2 separate regions of the Homo sapiens genome follow, and region 2 is linked to region 1. Evidence: fine-mapped expression QTL. Tissue or cell type: whole blood. Region 1 holds a variant in brackets; the other region holds the start of a gene. All regions are shown on one strand. Distances are between the middles of the regions. Region 1 overlaps FOXJ2 (forkhead box J2). Region 2 holds the start of NECAP1 (NECAP endocytosis associated 1).

Region 1 (8,338 bases):
TTTTTTCTCATGGGTCCTTGCGAGGCTCAGAGATTTATGAATCCTTTTGTTTCACATTCAGAATATATCACATCTCTAAATATGCAGCAAATAAGTCTCCTAGTGAGTGACTATAGACTTGCTATAATAGCAATTAGCCAGGCTTCCAGAAACCCCAGCACATCCCATAAGACCCTGGGAATAAGACCTAAACTCCTGGGGTTAGTGTATAGGATATCAAGGTGAATAATCTTGACGCAGTTATAAAGATTTAATGTACAACGAGTAATCAGCATTTCTGGACTCCTTTTCTTTTCCATTTGCTTTGGAAATGTATTCTGAAGAAATTCCTACAATTAGAGCTCCCTCATTTCTGATGAAAACCTGGTGAGTACCTGTAACTATTTTGTACTGTATCTTCTCCAGGAAGTCCCAGATGGGAACACAGCTCCTGTCCAAAGTATAATATCTTTTCTTTTTTTTTTTGAGATGAAGTATCACTCTGTAGCCCAGGCTAGAGCACAGTGGCACACTTGGCACGATCTCAGCTCACTGCAACCTCCACCTCTCGGGTTCAAGCAATTCTTCTGCCTCAGCCTCTCAAGTAGCTGGGATTACAGGCGCCTGCCACCACACCCGGCTAATTTTTGTATTTATAGTAGAGATGAGGTTTCACCATGTTGGCCAGGCTGGTCTCGAACTCCTGACCTTGTGATCTGCCCACCTCGGCCTCCCAAAGTGCTGGGATTACAGGTGTGACCCACCGCGCCCAACCAATATCTTTTCTTTTTGAGAGAGAGTTTCGTTCTTGTCACCCAGGCTGGAGTGCAACAGTGCAGTCTTGGCTTACTATAACCTCCGCCTTCCAGGTTCAAACGATTCTCCTGCCTCAGCCTCCAGAGTAGCTGGGATAACAGGCATGCACCACCACGCCCGGCTAATTTTGTGTTTTTAGTAGAGACGGGGTTTTACCATGTTGGTCAGGCTGAGCTCGAACTCCTGACCTCAGGTGATCTGCCTGCCTCGGCCTCCCAAACTGCTGGGATTATAGGCATGAGCCACCACGCCCAGCCCCAAAGTATAATATCTTAAATCTTTAAACTATCCTAAAATGCAAGCAAGGTGGGCCTACTCCATATACCAACCTACAAGGGGTGACTGACTCTCCCGCAATATGTCATCATACTTGATAGCATTTGAAAAGAGGCACGTTAAGGACGTGCCTTTGATTCTTCTTTCCCACCAAGGTCACAAAACGTGTCAGGGTCAACTAATTCAACCCAGTGGTGGAAGGTGGAAGAGGAATAAAGACGAACTGAGACTAAATTCTTTCACGTTTCTCTTTTCCTTCCCTGGCCAAAAGAAACTTGAGACCACTACCAGTAAGATAAAACTGTAAACATTCTTTTTTTTTTTTTATTAAGAAAGCATGCAAAAAAACAATGACAACAACTTGTGAGACCATATACCCCCTTCCCAGGATGCAGCAATGCAAAGCATTATGGGTGGTGGCACAAAGGACTCACCAAACCAGAAACATGAGGAGCAGGGACTGAGGAGAGAAAGGTTGGGATGGGTGGATCTATACCAAATAATTACTCCTTTTGTCCCTCTCCTCCACTTTCTCTCTTATTTCCTCTTATAGGCAGTGAGCTTCTGCAGTTTTGCACACATCACCCAATACAACAATAATGACTACACTTTGTGTCCAGCAATGCTAGACCAACAAGAAAAAGTAGTATTCTTTTCATTTCATGAAGGGGAGGGGAAACTGAGGCCCAAAGGGAGTCAGGTTTGCCCTGTGCCACGTAGCAAGACTGGGCTTGGTGGAAGGGAGCTGGAATCTCAGGAGGCCTAATGGCCAATCTCCAGTCCCAGACCCAAACTTCAGCTACCCTGGCTGCACGCCAGAATTCTTCATGAGACTAGTTTGCAGAAGACACAGATGAACAAGGGGCATTTGCATGTATGATCCTACCCTTGCAAATCCTGTATGGATCTGAACAGGAAAAGGGTTTAGAAAAGAGAAGTGATCATTTACAAATGGGGAATATTGAGGAGAACTGATGGGAAGTTTTGTATAGGACACACCCTGACTGGAAGGAATAAGGAAGGAAAAGATGCCTAAAATAGGGACACTGGGCAAAGGCATTTTGCCACCCTCTAAGAGAAATTCTCCTTTCCCCAATGGGAAATATTATGTCATACTTCAACCCCACTAAGTGCCCTCCAACATCATGGGAGATTCAAGCCACTCGCACCCCCATTTCTTTCTTAGAAAGGCTTCAAAGAAATAAAGTGCTCTTTAGTTAACTGCCCTATCTTGCCCCTTTACTTCAGCCTCACTGGACTTCTTCAATGAACTCTCATATATAACCCCCTTCCAAAAAAAGGAAAGGGGTGGATGAAAGAAAAAAGCAGGAGAGCGGAACGCCAAACCTCTTGGAAATTATGGGTAAATAAAATAATATGCATGAAAAGCAGAAATCACAAAGAAAGTGGCCTTGTCTATTCCATACATTTTGTCCCACAGCTTTTCAGCAAGTGAAATAAGGACAGAAGTAAAATTGTTCTTCCCTCTCGTAACTAAAATTCAACAATCAACATTAAATATACACTGAGTACTTTGCAACAGTAAGTCATGGCCACCCCTTGTAAAAGAGATGAGTTAGCTCCATACCTTTTTCTGGGGGTCCCCCTTGGCCCTCACTGAACTCTTGCCTCTAGATTATTTACTCTCCTCCACCAATCTCCTTCACCCCTCAAAGCCTACTTGCAAAAGCTTCAGCCAGATGATCTGGATTCCAAGAGAAGCATCTGCCTATATATTTAAAGAACTAAAATATTCCCTATCCATTTCTTTGCCAGCTCTTTTTTCCTCTCCCCATCCTCCTACCACCAACACTAAAGGTTTGGCTCTGCTATGAGAGGTGGGAATGAGATTCCCATCATGTCTCAGGGCACGACGAAACTCAGAGTGATAATGGGTTACTTTTTCTTTCTTGAGAATCCCAGAAAATGAGGGAAGAAAAAAGATGGGTGGAAGATTTGGGCAAACAATTAAAGGAGGACAAACTAATATTTGCTGAATGGGAAAAAGGGATGGGAAGATCATTCGTAAATGCAAATAAGAGCCACAATTAATTTTCAGAGAAAATTATGTTTAAAAAGCCAAAATAGTTAAGTTGGAATCATCTCCAAGAAGCTAAAACCATGCTGAATAGTTGTCCTCATGCCCTACCATAGAAGCAGAGTTTGGGCTAAAACCAATCCTATCTTCTTAGAGAACAGGCTCAAAACAAGCCAATGGACACTGATGTAACATGGCAGTGTA[T/C]ACTCAGTTTCACACTGACTTATATTCCATCCCTTCCAATGGTCTCCAATTCCACTAGGATTTTATTGTCACCCTCCTGCACCACCATCATCACTTTCACCCTTGATAGGAAATACAGACTGGCAGAAGTAAGGATTGAAGGTATAAAGGGACAAGGAAGACCTCAGAGGACAGAATTAGCACCATTTTAAAACCTCCAAATTCTTGGCTGCCAAGTAATGTTTCAGACCCTTTCTACTTGGTAATGTGGCCTCTCCAGTCCTGGCCTGAAACTGATGGGAACAAAAAACAATTTAGGGCCAAAAGGTGGGATTAGCATTGAGTTTCTCCAAGAGAAAGGTAAACTGGAGTCTAAAACCTTTCTCTGTAGCTATCATGGCTTCATCTTCCAGCCTGATGATTTTAAATTAGCAAAAGGTGGACATGATCCATGATGTAGGGACAGGAGACTATGGACAGTATATAACCAATAATAATAATAATAATATAAGAATAATAATAAAAGAACTAGGAAAAAACAGGAAGGAAGAGAGAAGAATGAGGCAGGAAAGAGAGGGTTATCTTCGGCAGCATCTTGCAGTGGCTTCTCTGACAGAGAAAGAACAAAAAGAGGATATATGTCTATATACAGACGGGGGGAAGGGACGGGCTGGGGTTGCTCTTTCCCCACTGCCAGATTTCACCACGCGGCCCTGGGCTGATGTCCACACTCTGTGATGCACTAAGTGATCAAGTCCCAGTCGAAGTCATCAGGGATCTCCTCATTGGCACCAGGAGGTGGCACTGATGGCCGAGGGACCATATGGTGTGCTGTTAGAAAGAAAGAAAGAGAGTAAAAGGAGAGTGGATGGGAAGCTGTTCCCTCAATTTACAAGGACAGTGCTCAGCCCCAGATAACACCACGAAGAAGGCCTTGTGAGGCTATCGCCCTTATCAGCTGGAGTTAATTTTGGTTGCAGGTCACCATTTCAGTGAGGTCTCAGGAAATAAACTAGAGTAAATTACATTCCACAGCAATTAAATATTATGCTGCCATTAACAATTATACTTCTGACGCCAGGCACAGTTGCTCACACTTGTTATCCCAGCACTTTGGGAGGCCAAGGCAGGCGGATCACGAGGTCAGGAATTCGAGACCAGCCTGGCCAACATGGAGAAACCCCATCTCTACTAAAAACTCAAAAAATTAGCTGGGTGTGGTCACATGTGCCTGTAGTCCCAGCTACTCGGGAGGCTGAAGCAGGAGAATGGCATGAACCCGGGAGGTCTTGCAGTGAGCTAAGACCGTGCCATTGCACTCCAGCCTGGGCGATAGAGCGAGACTCCGTCTCAAAAAAAAAAAAAAATTGTACTTCTGAAAACATATGATAATGATAAAATAACATACAGAAGATAATATCATATGGCTGGGCGTGGTGGCTCATGCCTATAATCCCAGCACTTTGAGAGGCCGAGATGGGTGGATCACTTGAGGTCAGGAGTTCTAGACCAGACTGGCCAACATGGTGAAACCCTGTCTCTACTAAAAAATAAAAATTAGCCAGGCACAGTGGCGGGCGCCTGTGATCCCAGCTGCTCGGGAGGCTGAGGCTCGAGAATCACTTGAACCTGGGAGGCGGAGGTTGCAGTGAGCCAGGATCACACCATTGCCTACTGCACTCCAGCCTGGGCAACAGAAAAAGACTCTGACTCAAACAAACAAACAGAAGATAATATCACATGAAATAGCAGTATAGAAATCTGTATTTATATTATATGGACAAAGAATAGAGAGAGTCAGATGTCACCCCCAAAATTGAAAACACGTGTGGTTAGGCAGAATAACAGTGATTTTTCTATGTGTCTAAATGTGAAGGACCTGTTCATTTTGTTCTGTCTGTGGCAATTTAGTGTCTCCCTGCCCCACCCCCACTATCAGAGATACTTCAGTCCCAGACCCCTGATTCTAGAGATCAGGTGACAGGAAAGCAGACATGGGCACACAGCAAGTATGTGTGGATAACAAATTCATTTTATTTGCCTGAGCACATCTTCCATCTAGATTCCAAAGCCACACAAAAATGTTGCACATAGCTATCTTTTGCTTATATGTATGCTTTCACTTCCTTTTACTATTGCAGTTGCTAATTTTAAAGTACATCTAGCCGGGGCCAGTGGATCACGCCTGTAATCCCAGCACTTTGGGAGGCAGAGGCAGGTGGATCACTTGTGGTCAGGAGTTCAAGACAAGCCTAGCCAACATGGCAAAACCCCGTCTCTACTAAAAATACAAAAATTAGCCAGGCATGGTGGTGTGGGTCTGTAGTCCCAGCTAGTTGAGAGGCTCAAGCAGGAGAATCATTTCAACCCAGGAGGTGGAGGTTGTAGTGAGCTGAGATCGCACCACTGTACTCCAGCCTGGGCAACAGAGCGAGACTCTGTTGAAAAGAAAAGAAAAGGGGAAGGGAAAGGGAAGGGAAGGGAAGGGGAAGGGGAAGGGAAGGGAAAGGGAATGGAAGGGAAGGGGAAAGGAAGGGCAAGGGAAGGGGAAGGGGAAGGAAAGGGAAGGGAAGGGAAAGGGAAGGGGAAGGAAAGGGAAGGGAAGGGGAAGGGAAGGGAGGGGAAGGGAAGAGGAAAGGAAGGGGAAGGGAAGGGGAAGGGGAAGGGAAGGGGAAGGAAAGGGAAGGGAAGGGGAAGGGAAGGGGAAGGGAAGGGGAAGGGAAGGGGAAGGGAAGGGAAGGGGAAGGGAAAGGAAGGGAGGGGAAGGGAGGGGAGGGGACACTGTCTTCGTTAGTCTCCCCGACACACACCTTCTTAGCAGGTAACCCATCCTCCAGCCTTGGGAATTATAAAGGCTCATTCCCTCCAGCGAGATGCAGGCAAAAATGCACAGAATGCCAGCTCAGAGTCAAAGGAAAGCAAAGCAACTCATCAGAGTACAACGGTTTTGAAACAAGCTTCTTAGCTCTTACCTGGGCGATTGTATCCTGCTGAGTCCTGGGTGGGGATTGGGTACATTGGTGATGGGCCAGGGTAGAGGTGGGGAGCTTGTGGGTGCCCATAAGAGTTCACTGCCAAAGCAAGACAAGAGTTACTTGAGTTGGGGGGGGCGGGTCACTGTACTCAACAAAGCAGGGAAGAAAAAAATATACCCTTGCTCCCATCCTCCTTCTCTCTTCCCTGCCCTGTTCTGTAGCTCCTGCAGGCATGAAGGCTTTCTGCAGAAGCTGTCAGTCCTCACCACTGAGGGTAAAAAGAAATGGATAGTACAATTGTGAAATAGGAAAGATATAAGGAAGAAAAATATAGAAACACAGGGCCAGGTATGGTGGCTCATGCCTGTAATCCCAACACTTTGGGCAGCCGAGGTGGGTAGATCCCTTGAGTCCAAGAGTTTGAAGATAGCCTGGGCGACACGGTGAAACCCCAGCTATACACAAAATACAAAAAAAAAATTAGCTGGGCATGGTGGTACACACCTGTAGTCCCAGCTACTCAGGAGGCTAAAGTGGGAGGATCACCTGAGCTCCAGGGGTCAAGGTTGCAGTGAGCCGTGATCACACCACTGCACTCCAGAGCCTGGGCGACAGAGCGAGACCCCATCTCAAAAACAAAAAGCAAGAAACAGGAACATAATCATGACATCTCTCTCATTTCACTAGTTTGAACATCACATAAGCATAGAACCACCATTTCATCCGGTATCACCCAGGCGGTAGGGATTACTGAGACGCAAATTTAAAATACAGCCTTTCTCTAACAAATCTCCTCCCTTTTCTTAAACAATTCTGATCTCCCAAACTGAGGTCTAAAAAGGAATCATACAGTCTATTTCTTTTGCATTTTTCAGTTTAGGACTTCACTGATTCAACAGATATTCAGTCAACTGATAAACTAGTTCCACTGCTCAATTTGGGTCACTGCCCCATAAAATCCTTTCTCTCAGTTCTCTTTTGCCTTTCTCCTATGCTTCCTTTTCAACATAGTCTCCACCTCCATGGCAACTGGCTTGGTGCAGTACCTTGGCTCATGGCTGACTCCTGTTTGCCACTGGTGAGGGCACAGGAGTCAGCAATACGGGCAGGGGCTGGTGGGCGGTGGGTACCCCCTTGAGGGGGCACGTGACCAGTCTGAGTAAGGAAGTGGTTGAGGGAGTCACACAGATTGGCAATGTGATGCTGGTCGAGGGTCCAGTTCTTCTGCTCTGCCTGTCGTAGACTCTCCATCAGTTCTACAAAGAGGGAAGCAAGCAATGCAAACCTTGCAGAGGTAGGAAGCCCCTATCAGACCCCGCCCTATCTCACTGTTCCAAACACACCATCAATCACCCCCACTGATAACGGGCACTAACAATAACAATTTATATCTTTCAGAGCTCTGCATTTTCAAACTCTCATTCTATTTGATCCCTTACCAAATTCTTATAATTGCCATCTTACTGATGAGTAAGATAAACTTTCAATGTGACTGAGTGACTCAGCCAAGGTCACACTGTCAGTGAGTGGTGACAAAACTACAAAATCGTGGTCCACGGTCTCTAAATTCCTGAGGGCCTTCTCCCTCCCAAAGACAGAATGGACTAGGATTATTCACTGCCACATTTTCAGTTAAGACAAGATTAATTTGAGTTAATTTGAAAATAATGTAAATATGATCCATCTTGTGTAAAAAGAAAGAAAAACAATGAAATCCTCATTTCTGCAACTTCATTTAACCACCCCCTTCCGGTTCCAGTTTCTACTGGGTTTTCCCTTACAGTGTATCCCTCTCTTCCTTCGTCCTTTGATCACTAACCTGAGAATTGTGACTGCTCAATGCTGGACCAATTGAGCCGATTCACCATCTTGAAGCTTTCCTTTAAAGAGTCAATATTAGAGCACCAGTCAGAAGGAAAGGCTGTAAAGAGGAGGGGAAAGTGGATAATAAGATAGAGTGAAGTGTAAGACAGCAGTCAACTGATACCAGGCTGACTACATGCAAGATTCTTGCATCTATACAGATTAGCAGTTGCATTTCCAAGTTTTGGACTCTCCCTCCCTGGGAGTT
Region 2 (8,338 bases), 29 kb before region 1:
AAAATTAGCCAAGCATGGCAGTGCACATCTGTAATCTCAACTACTCAGGAGGCTGAGGCACGAGAATCAGTTGAATCTGGGAGGCACAGATTGCAGTGAGCCATGATCACACCATTGTACGCCAGCCTGGGTGACAGAGCGAGACTCTGTCTCAACAACAAAAAAAAAAAAAAAAAAAAAAAAAAAAAGAAGATTAAGTGAGAGGATCCTACAAGGTAAGTATTGTTATAGTCATTTTTACAAATGAAGAAACTAACATTCAAAAGTGGTGATTTGCCAAAGGTAACCCAGCAAATAAATATCGTTATTCAAACTTAATTCCGCTCTCTTCATGTGCTGTACTAAAAAAGTGATTGATGATAAGGTGCCTCTTGGAGGATAAAAAATGCCAGTAGACATGGAAAACACAGAAGGATAACAGGAAAAAGAGGAAAATTAAGAAACTGCTTTAATGGCTCAGTGCAGTTAACTGATGTAAGTATAAAGGTTGTGGAAAACTAAGAAGTGAAGATAGAGAAGATGGGTGAGAGGGGAGGTGTTTTAAAAAGCTTGAAGTAGGCCGGGTGCGGTGGCTCACGCCTGTAATCCCAGCACTTTGGGAGGCCAAGGCAGGCGGATCACGAGGTCAAGAGTTTGAGACCAGCCTGGCCAACACAGTGAAACCCCGTCTCTACTAAATATACAAAAATTAGCTGGGCATAGTGGCACGTGCCTGTAGTCCCAGCTACTTGGGAGGCTGAGGCAGGAAAATCACTTGAACCGGGGAGGCGGAGGTTGTGGCGAGCTGAGATTGCGCCAGCGCACTCCAGCCTGGGCAACACAGCCAGACTCCATCTCAAAAAAAAAAAAACTTCAAGAAAAAGAATATAATCCCACTTCAATATGTATCATATCCTTTAGGAGTCTTAACTCCTAAAGTTGGAAGTAATGAGCTATTTGACCTTATTTAACAGTTCAATCAATGCCACTTTATGTGATTAGGTTTCTCTGTGTAATCTACTGATTTCTTCTTTCAGTCAACATTTACAGGGTGCCCAAAGTGTACCAGATACTGTGCTAGACCCTGGGAATATAAAGTTAAAAAGATCTCAAGTTGTTCACAGTCTAGCCTGGAGAAAAAAGGAGACTAAACAATCCATTGTACAATCCACTGTAATCCATTACAATACAAAATGAAGAGCCCTGGAATAGAGATAAGAATAAAGTGCTATGCAGGAACAGAAAACCAAACACCACATGTTCTCACTCACAAGTGGGAGTTGAACAGTGAGAACGCATGGGCACAGGGAGGGGAACAACACACACTGGGGCCTCTCGGGGGAGGGGCGAGGATGACAGGTTGATAGGTGCAGCAAACCACCATGGCACATGCATACCTATGTAACAAACCTGCACATTCTGCACATGTATCCCAGAACTTAAAGTAAAAAAGAAAAAGAAAAAGGTGCTATGGAAGCACACAGGGTGCATATCTAAACCAGAATGGAAGGGTCACATAGGGCCTCCCAAAGAAGGTGATGTTTAAGTGACTCATATAGTACCTGTAACTACCATCTAAAAGCATGTTGATTTCTACTTAGGGTCAGTTTGGGGTCCAACTAAAAGCTTATTAAAAACAGAACTGCTACCTCTTTGCCAAAGGTGCAACCCACAGGGCCCAGCGCACAGGTCAGCAAGCATAAAAATATTGATTCATGATGAATAAAACGCCAGTAAGGGGCAAAATAACAGACATAAGGAGAGGGTAACTTTTCAGCCAAGGTAATGATAAATGCCAGGAGGAAAAATCACAATGATGATGTGGGTCAGAGAGAAGAATAAGAACAGTATCTTGGCCAGGTGCAGTGGCCCACACCTGTAATTTCAACACTTTGGGAGGCTGTGGCAGGAGAATCACTTAAGGCCAGGAGTTCGAGACCAGCCTGGGAAATATATCAAGATCCTGTCTACACAAAAAAATTTAAAAATTAGCCAGGCATTGTGAGGCAATGCCTGTAGCCCTAGCAACTTGGGAGGCTGAGGTAGGAGGATCCCTTGTGCCCAGGAGTACACAGCTGCCGTGAGCTGTGATTGCACCACTTGCACTCCAGCCTGGATGATAGAACGAGACCCTGCCTCTCTAACAAAAAAAAAAAAAAAAAAAAACGACGGCTGGGCGTGGTGTCACGCCTGTAATCCCAGTACTATGGGAGGCCAAGGTGGGCAGATCACAAGGTCAGGAGTTCAAGACCAGCCTGGCCAACTTGGTGAAACCCCATCTCTACTCAAAATACAAAAATTAGCCAGGTGTGGTGGTGCATGCGTGTAATCCCAACTATTCAGGAAGCTGAAGCAGGAGAATCGCTTGAACCCAGGAGGCGGAGGTTGCAGTGAGCTGAGATTGAGCCATTGCGCTCCGGCCTGGGCAACAAAGTGAGACTACATCTCAAAAAAAAAAAAAAAAAAAAAAAAAAGAACAAACAAATAGTATTTGTAACTGCTTTATTGCATTTCCTACATTCTTTCACATCCATTATATGATTTAATTTTACTCTCCCAAAAACCCTTGTTAAGCACATTATAAGAGCGCAGGTATCATCACTAACAGGTTTTTTTTTCTATTTTACAGATGAGAAAATTGAGGCTTGGAAAGGGCTCACACTCATATGGTTTAACATGAAGCCCAGTGAACTGTCTTTCAACTACATAATGTCCTATAGCATCCTCAGAACCTCACAGTCATTGGATTACAAGGTAGGTAGTTAGGCCCAACAGAGAAAAATGCTGCCTCAACTTTGGAGGGAAAAGGTGTAGGAGAGGTTAAGAAGGGAGGTAGGGAAGGAAGACAGAAAATACTATATAATCATCAAGAAAATACAATGAGAAGAAACAGAATGAACAACCGTTGTAAAGCTTATGATCATAACCTTTGCTCACTGGTAAAACTGCTGAAGGAAAAACCGAATGGTGGATGATGACAGTTGGTGACGAAATTGACAACAGTACAAAAAATAAATCAGATAATCCAGAGTGGCAAGCAACACGATTACCCATAAATGTGCATGGGGAACTGGAAAGGTGTGTGTGTGTGTGTGTGTGTGTGTGTGTGTGTGTGTGTGTGAGAGAGAGAGAGAGAGAAAGGATGAGGATGATAAGCTGAAGGACGCAGGGAAGAGCGAATGAAAGGGGACTGGCAATGGAGCAAGCACGACTGAAAGTGCATGATGGGGAGCAGATGGGTGCCCCAGGGGATTACGGGAGAGGCAGAGTGGAATAACGCAGAGTGGTAATTTAATAAAAAACAAAACAAAAAAAAAAACGGCAGAAATATGGTGATGACAGTCCAGAGTGGAGATGGAGCAGGTGGTCAGGGAGATGACAACCCAGGTAGGGAGGCTAGCAAGGTGACAATACAGAGGTAGTAGTGGCAGGGACGGACAGCGTGCTAGCTGAGAAGGAAGCTGTCATCTGCGACAGAGTACGCGTGTGCGGCAGCGCCTCGGGGTTAGTACCTGTAACCGCGGTTGGAGGCCCGGGGCGGAATCCGGTAGACGCTGACGTCTGGCTTCACACACAGCACAGACTCGTACTCCAACTCGGTCGCCATCTTGGGTCCGCTGTCGGCGCTGCCGGGGGCGAAACGTAAGACCGGAGGCGGAGCACGGGAGGCGGAGATGCAAAGCGCGACAACTTCTGTTGCGTCACTTCCGCGCGAGTTCAAGTTAGTTTCTGAGATTAACCTTTTCGGTGACGCGGGGAGCCATATTGAAACCTGGAAACGATGAGGCTGCACGGCTCACCGTCTTGGATAATGGCAAAGATGGCCTGCAAGTGCGTGACTCTCGTTATGGAAATCTCTGTCCTGGAGAGGTGCTTACGAAAAGCGCCATCTTACTCTAGGCAGGTGCCTGGAGTGTCCTACGAGGACGAGGACCATATTGAATCGTGACGGATTTTCTTACAGGAGTCACTTCCTAACTGTAGTCTCCTGGCAGAAAAGAGGCAACCTCCAGCCGGTAGTCCCAGACGAGGTACCTGCAGAGAATGATGTATGATCTGGTCATAGACACCGTGGATTTCAACTCTCCAGAGTCTAAACGCTGAAAACACCCAACTTGATTTAGTGCCTTACACTCTTTATCTCCGATTTTTCAGGACGACACCTGTTAAAATGTTTTGCCACACTTTCGGCGTGTATTCCGATTATCTTTTTGGAAAATTTGATCCTGTTAAATAGACTATACGTGGGATCAACCCAATTCCTGATAAAATCGGAAGCATAATGAACTATCTAATGGCCTATATTAGCTCCCAGTTCTATTATAATGATAAATGCTACCGAACTCTCACCATAAATATGCTTTTTCTGCGCCCCAAAGGTAAACTTAACCACAACACCCTGACAGTACAGATAGCAAGTGGCAAAACTGAGACAGAAACTCAAGCCTGCCTCATTACAACAGCAGCAGTCTTCACCGCTGCTGGAGCTGGCAAGGTCACCAAGTCTGCCCAGAAAGCTCAGAAGGCTAGATGAATATCATCCCTAATACCTGCCACCCCACTCTTAATCAGTGGTGGAAGAACGGTCTCAGAACTGTTTGTTTCAACTGGCCATTTAAGTTCAGTAGTAAAAGACTGGTTAATGAAAACAATGCATCGTAAAACCTTCAGAAGGAAAGGAGAATGTTTTGTGGACCACTGGTTTTCTTCTTCAGAAGGAAAGGAGAATGTTTTGTGGACCACTGGTTTTCTTTTTTGCGTGTGGCAGTTTTAAGTTATTAGTTTTTTAAATCAGTACTTTTTAATGGAAACATCCAAAAATTTGTCACAGAATTTTGAGACCCATTAAAAAAGTTTAATGAGAAAAAAAAAAAAAGCAAACCTGCCTCTAATTTGTCTGCTCCACCTTGGAAAGTGATATCTTAAATTTCAAAAAGAATTACCACATTTATCCCTGGCGAGGACGTGAGGAACAGTCTAATCTCATACACTGTTGGCAGGAATGTAAATTGGCACGGCATTTTTAAAAGGGAAATTAACAGAATTTATCAAAATATTAATTGGACGTAATCTTCAATTTAGCAGTTTCACTAATAAATATTGTAGAGAAATCCTTATATGCACAAAAAAGTATGTACAATAATACTACAGCATTGTTTGTAATAGTGAAAAAAATGGAAACAAAATGACCATCTATCAATGGGAAATGGTTAATGGTATATCTATTACTATGAGATGTTTTGAACTAAAGGGTTAGCCATTGAAAGAGATCCAAGATTTTTTAAAGCCAACTGCAAAAAACATACAGCATTATCAACTTTTGTCGAAACACCCCAAAATTATATATGCATGCATGTAAATGCATTGAGAAGGCTTTCAAAGGATATAAGGCTAAGTGGGGGAAAGAAACTTATTTTCTCCTCCATATATTTCTCTGTTGTTTAAGATTTATATAGCTATTATTGTCACTGAATACATGTTAAAAGAAAAATAAAGACAGAAAAGTGGTTTATTACTTGTTGTTCCTTATTTCTGACCCTATGATCTCATCTGAAGCCTAGGTCATATGACTACACCACATTGTACCTCTTTTTTTTTCTCTGTTCTGTGTTATCACTGGCAATCATTTTTGGAGGATTCTGGCTTCTGGTTCACCTTCTTACTAGTTTATACTCTTCCTCTTCTCCCAAATCTTTTAGAGATTTCAAAGCCCATATAGTTAACTCTTCCTAGCCATACAATCTCTTGACATAAATTCTAACTATCTTTACCTCTCTTTTCTACCTCACCTGTTCTTCTTCATGTTCTGCACATTGTTAGCCTTCTCTTTATTCCTCCCATCTCCTTGTTTCAACAGTTCTCTTGCCAGCATCCTTAAGTTTCCTTTCCTCTTTGTCTTTCCATCACAGCCAACCCAAAAGACTCCAGTCTTATATATTCCAACCATCTCCCTCCATCATTCTCCAAAAGCAAATCACACAATTATAAAGATTGGTGTCCCTAAAAGTTTATGGGTTTGAGTCTCAGCTTTGCCCTTAACACCCAGATTTGCCATTGCTAGTTTTTATTTTCATTCCCTTTAATGGTTGTTCCAAATTTTGCTGCCCTTTCAGGCCTTCAACTCTAAGTCTTCTCTTTTTCTTTCTTGACAGGTAAAACATCTTACTACTTCCCTAAGAAAATAAAGTTTGTGTGAACTCTCTCAACTTAATGACACCCTATTCATACTCCTATCTGCATCTTCATCTATTCTTTCTCCTATCCACTTGTGTGTGCCCTGGATTCTCCTCAGGGACCAATCTCCTCAGGGACCTGGTTAATCAGTTATCTCCTTTCTTTCCTGTATCTTAAAACTCATTTTCCATTCACCCCTTTCCCTCACCATGTAAGTATATTCAAGTCCTTTCACCTAAAAAAAAAAAAAAAAAAAAACCCTTACTTAACCATGTTTTTTCTTTATATAAATTTAAATTTCCCTTCTCTTGCTTCATCTCAACAGAAACAGAAAAAAATACAGTCTTCCTCACTCTCACCCACGATGTCTTCTCTAGCTTAACTGATCACATTGCCATAATTTTCCATACATGCCATTTTTATTCATGCTGAACATATTTGTCCAGACTGAAATGCACTTCCCGTTCATTCCTTGGTAAGATGCCTTTAGATCTAATCTAAATATCAATTTATCTCAGAAGTTTTCCTCAACTTCTCTAAATAGAACTGGTAACTGCCTCCTCTATGCTCCCACAACATTTGTACAGCTGTTTTAGTTCTTAGCACATTGCATTCAACTGCTTGTTGGCATCTCTGTTTTCCAAGGGAAAGAAACAGGTTTGTGTTTTCCCAGTATCTAGCACAGTTTTCAGACTATAGTAAGAACTCTGTATGTTTATTTGCTAAATGAATGATCATTTCAGCCTGCCTTAACAGGGATGATTTGTTCTTTCCCAATCAAAATAATTAAAAATGTCTTGGGCCGGCACAGTGGCTCACGCCTGTAACCTCAGCACCTTGGGAGGCTGAGGCAGGCAGATCACTTGAGGTCAGGAGTTCAAGACCAGCCTGGCTAACATGTTGAAACCCTGTCTCTACTGAAAATACAAAAACTAGCTGGTCATAGTGGTGCATGCCTGTAATGCCAGCTACTTGGGAGGCTAAGGCAGGAGAATTGCTTGAACCCAGGAGACGGAGGTTGCAGTGAGTCAAGATCATGCCACTGCACTCCAGCCTGGGCTACTGAATGAGACTCCGTATCAAAAAAAAATAAACTAAAATAAAAAAATTAAAAATGTCTTGTCTCGAACTTATCTTTGCCCACCACCGGGGGGTAGTAGCTACACAGCTCACAGGTTCTGGGCTGAGTAGACTGTGCTAAGTCAAGCTAGTGTTCTTGTATGTGGCTTTGTAAGTATATGATTTAACCAAGTTTAACAAAAGCTTGTTTTTTTAAATGCATTGTTGAAATTCATGGAGGCCTTACCCATCTCAAATCTTGGTCACTTTTAGATGTCATTTAAACATGAAAATAACTTATGGTTTTCTTAACTTAGCCCTACCAGTAACATATTTCCCAGCTCTTCTTTACGCACACACAAAAAGGTATTTATCACAGATTAAATTCTGACTTATCATTGCTCAGGGTACTGCTATCAATGGTATTTGTTAAAGTATAATTTTCCTAAATCCTGAAGTTGCTACACATGCAGTGGTAATAAAAATTGTAATGAGATTCGAATCATAGTTTACAGGATTTTTTTTAGCTAGAGTGGACCTTAGTAACCTTTCAGTTCAGATCTCATCCAAAGACATAGTTGGTGATGCAGTCAGGATCAGAACTTCATATCTCATGATTTACAAACTAACACTCTTTCCACTGTGAGATAGGTAAGGCCTCCATCAATTTCAACAATTCAAAAAACGAACATTTTTTAAAGTTGAAAACGCTGTGTTGGTCTTACCATGATCTCATATTTTAATCAAATAGCAGTTAAAGTCAGCCATTGACCTAAATCTAGCCATACCTACTCCTTGCTCTGCAGTGTTGTGCTGTAGCTGCTGTGTCAGGTTAAACTGGCTTTGCTTGTAAATTTGACAATCTTCAAATCTGAGGGGTAATGAATTCTAACTTTGATTTATTTACTGCTGTATCCCCAACACCTAGAACAGTGCCTGGCACATGGTAGGTGTTCAATCAATATTTGTAGTTTAAATGACAATAATCTAGAAACCTAGAGAGAGAAAAAAATAAAAAAGATTGAGAGTCCTATAACTACAGAACTTAGGATCAAAGCTACTTTAGTATTAATACTATTCATGAAGAAAAGACATCAGGTTCTACAGCCTGAAAAGCAAAGGATAC

What was found.
Region 2: NECAP1 starts here. The variant in region 1 is fine-mapped to the expression of NECAP1 in whole blood (INTERVAL, PIP 0.98).

Annotation. Positions count from the first base shown.
Region 1 is chr12:8,048,547-8,056,884 of GRCh38, reverse strand. FOXJ2 (forkhead box J2) reads right to left here. Exons shown (of 11, transcript NM_018416.3): 8 at 8,087-8,188; 9 at 7,314-7,523; 10 at 6,265-6,363; 11 at 1,368-4,123. The coding sequence ends at 4,035. It overlaps C3AR1 (complement C3a receptor 1), which reads left to right. Exons shown (of 2, transcript NM_004054.4): 2 at 1-41. Among named protein-coding and RNA genes, the nearest start is that of C3AR1, 14 kb to the left of the region's middle. The variant T/C (reference allele first, on the strand shown) is at 3,314.
Region 2 is chr12:8,077,537-8,085,874 of GRCh38, reverse strand. NECAP1 (NECAP endocytosis associated 1) reads right to left here and starts at 3,601. Exons shown (of 8, transcript NM_015509.4): 1 at 3,492-3,601. The coding sequence starts at 3,586. RefSeq lists enhancers at 3,359-3,418, 3,489-3,708, 3,140-4,339, 8,245-8,338.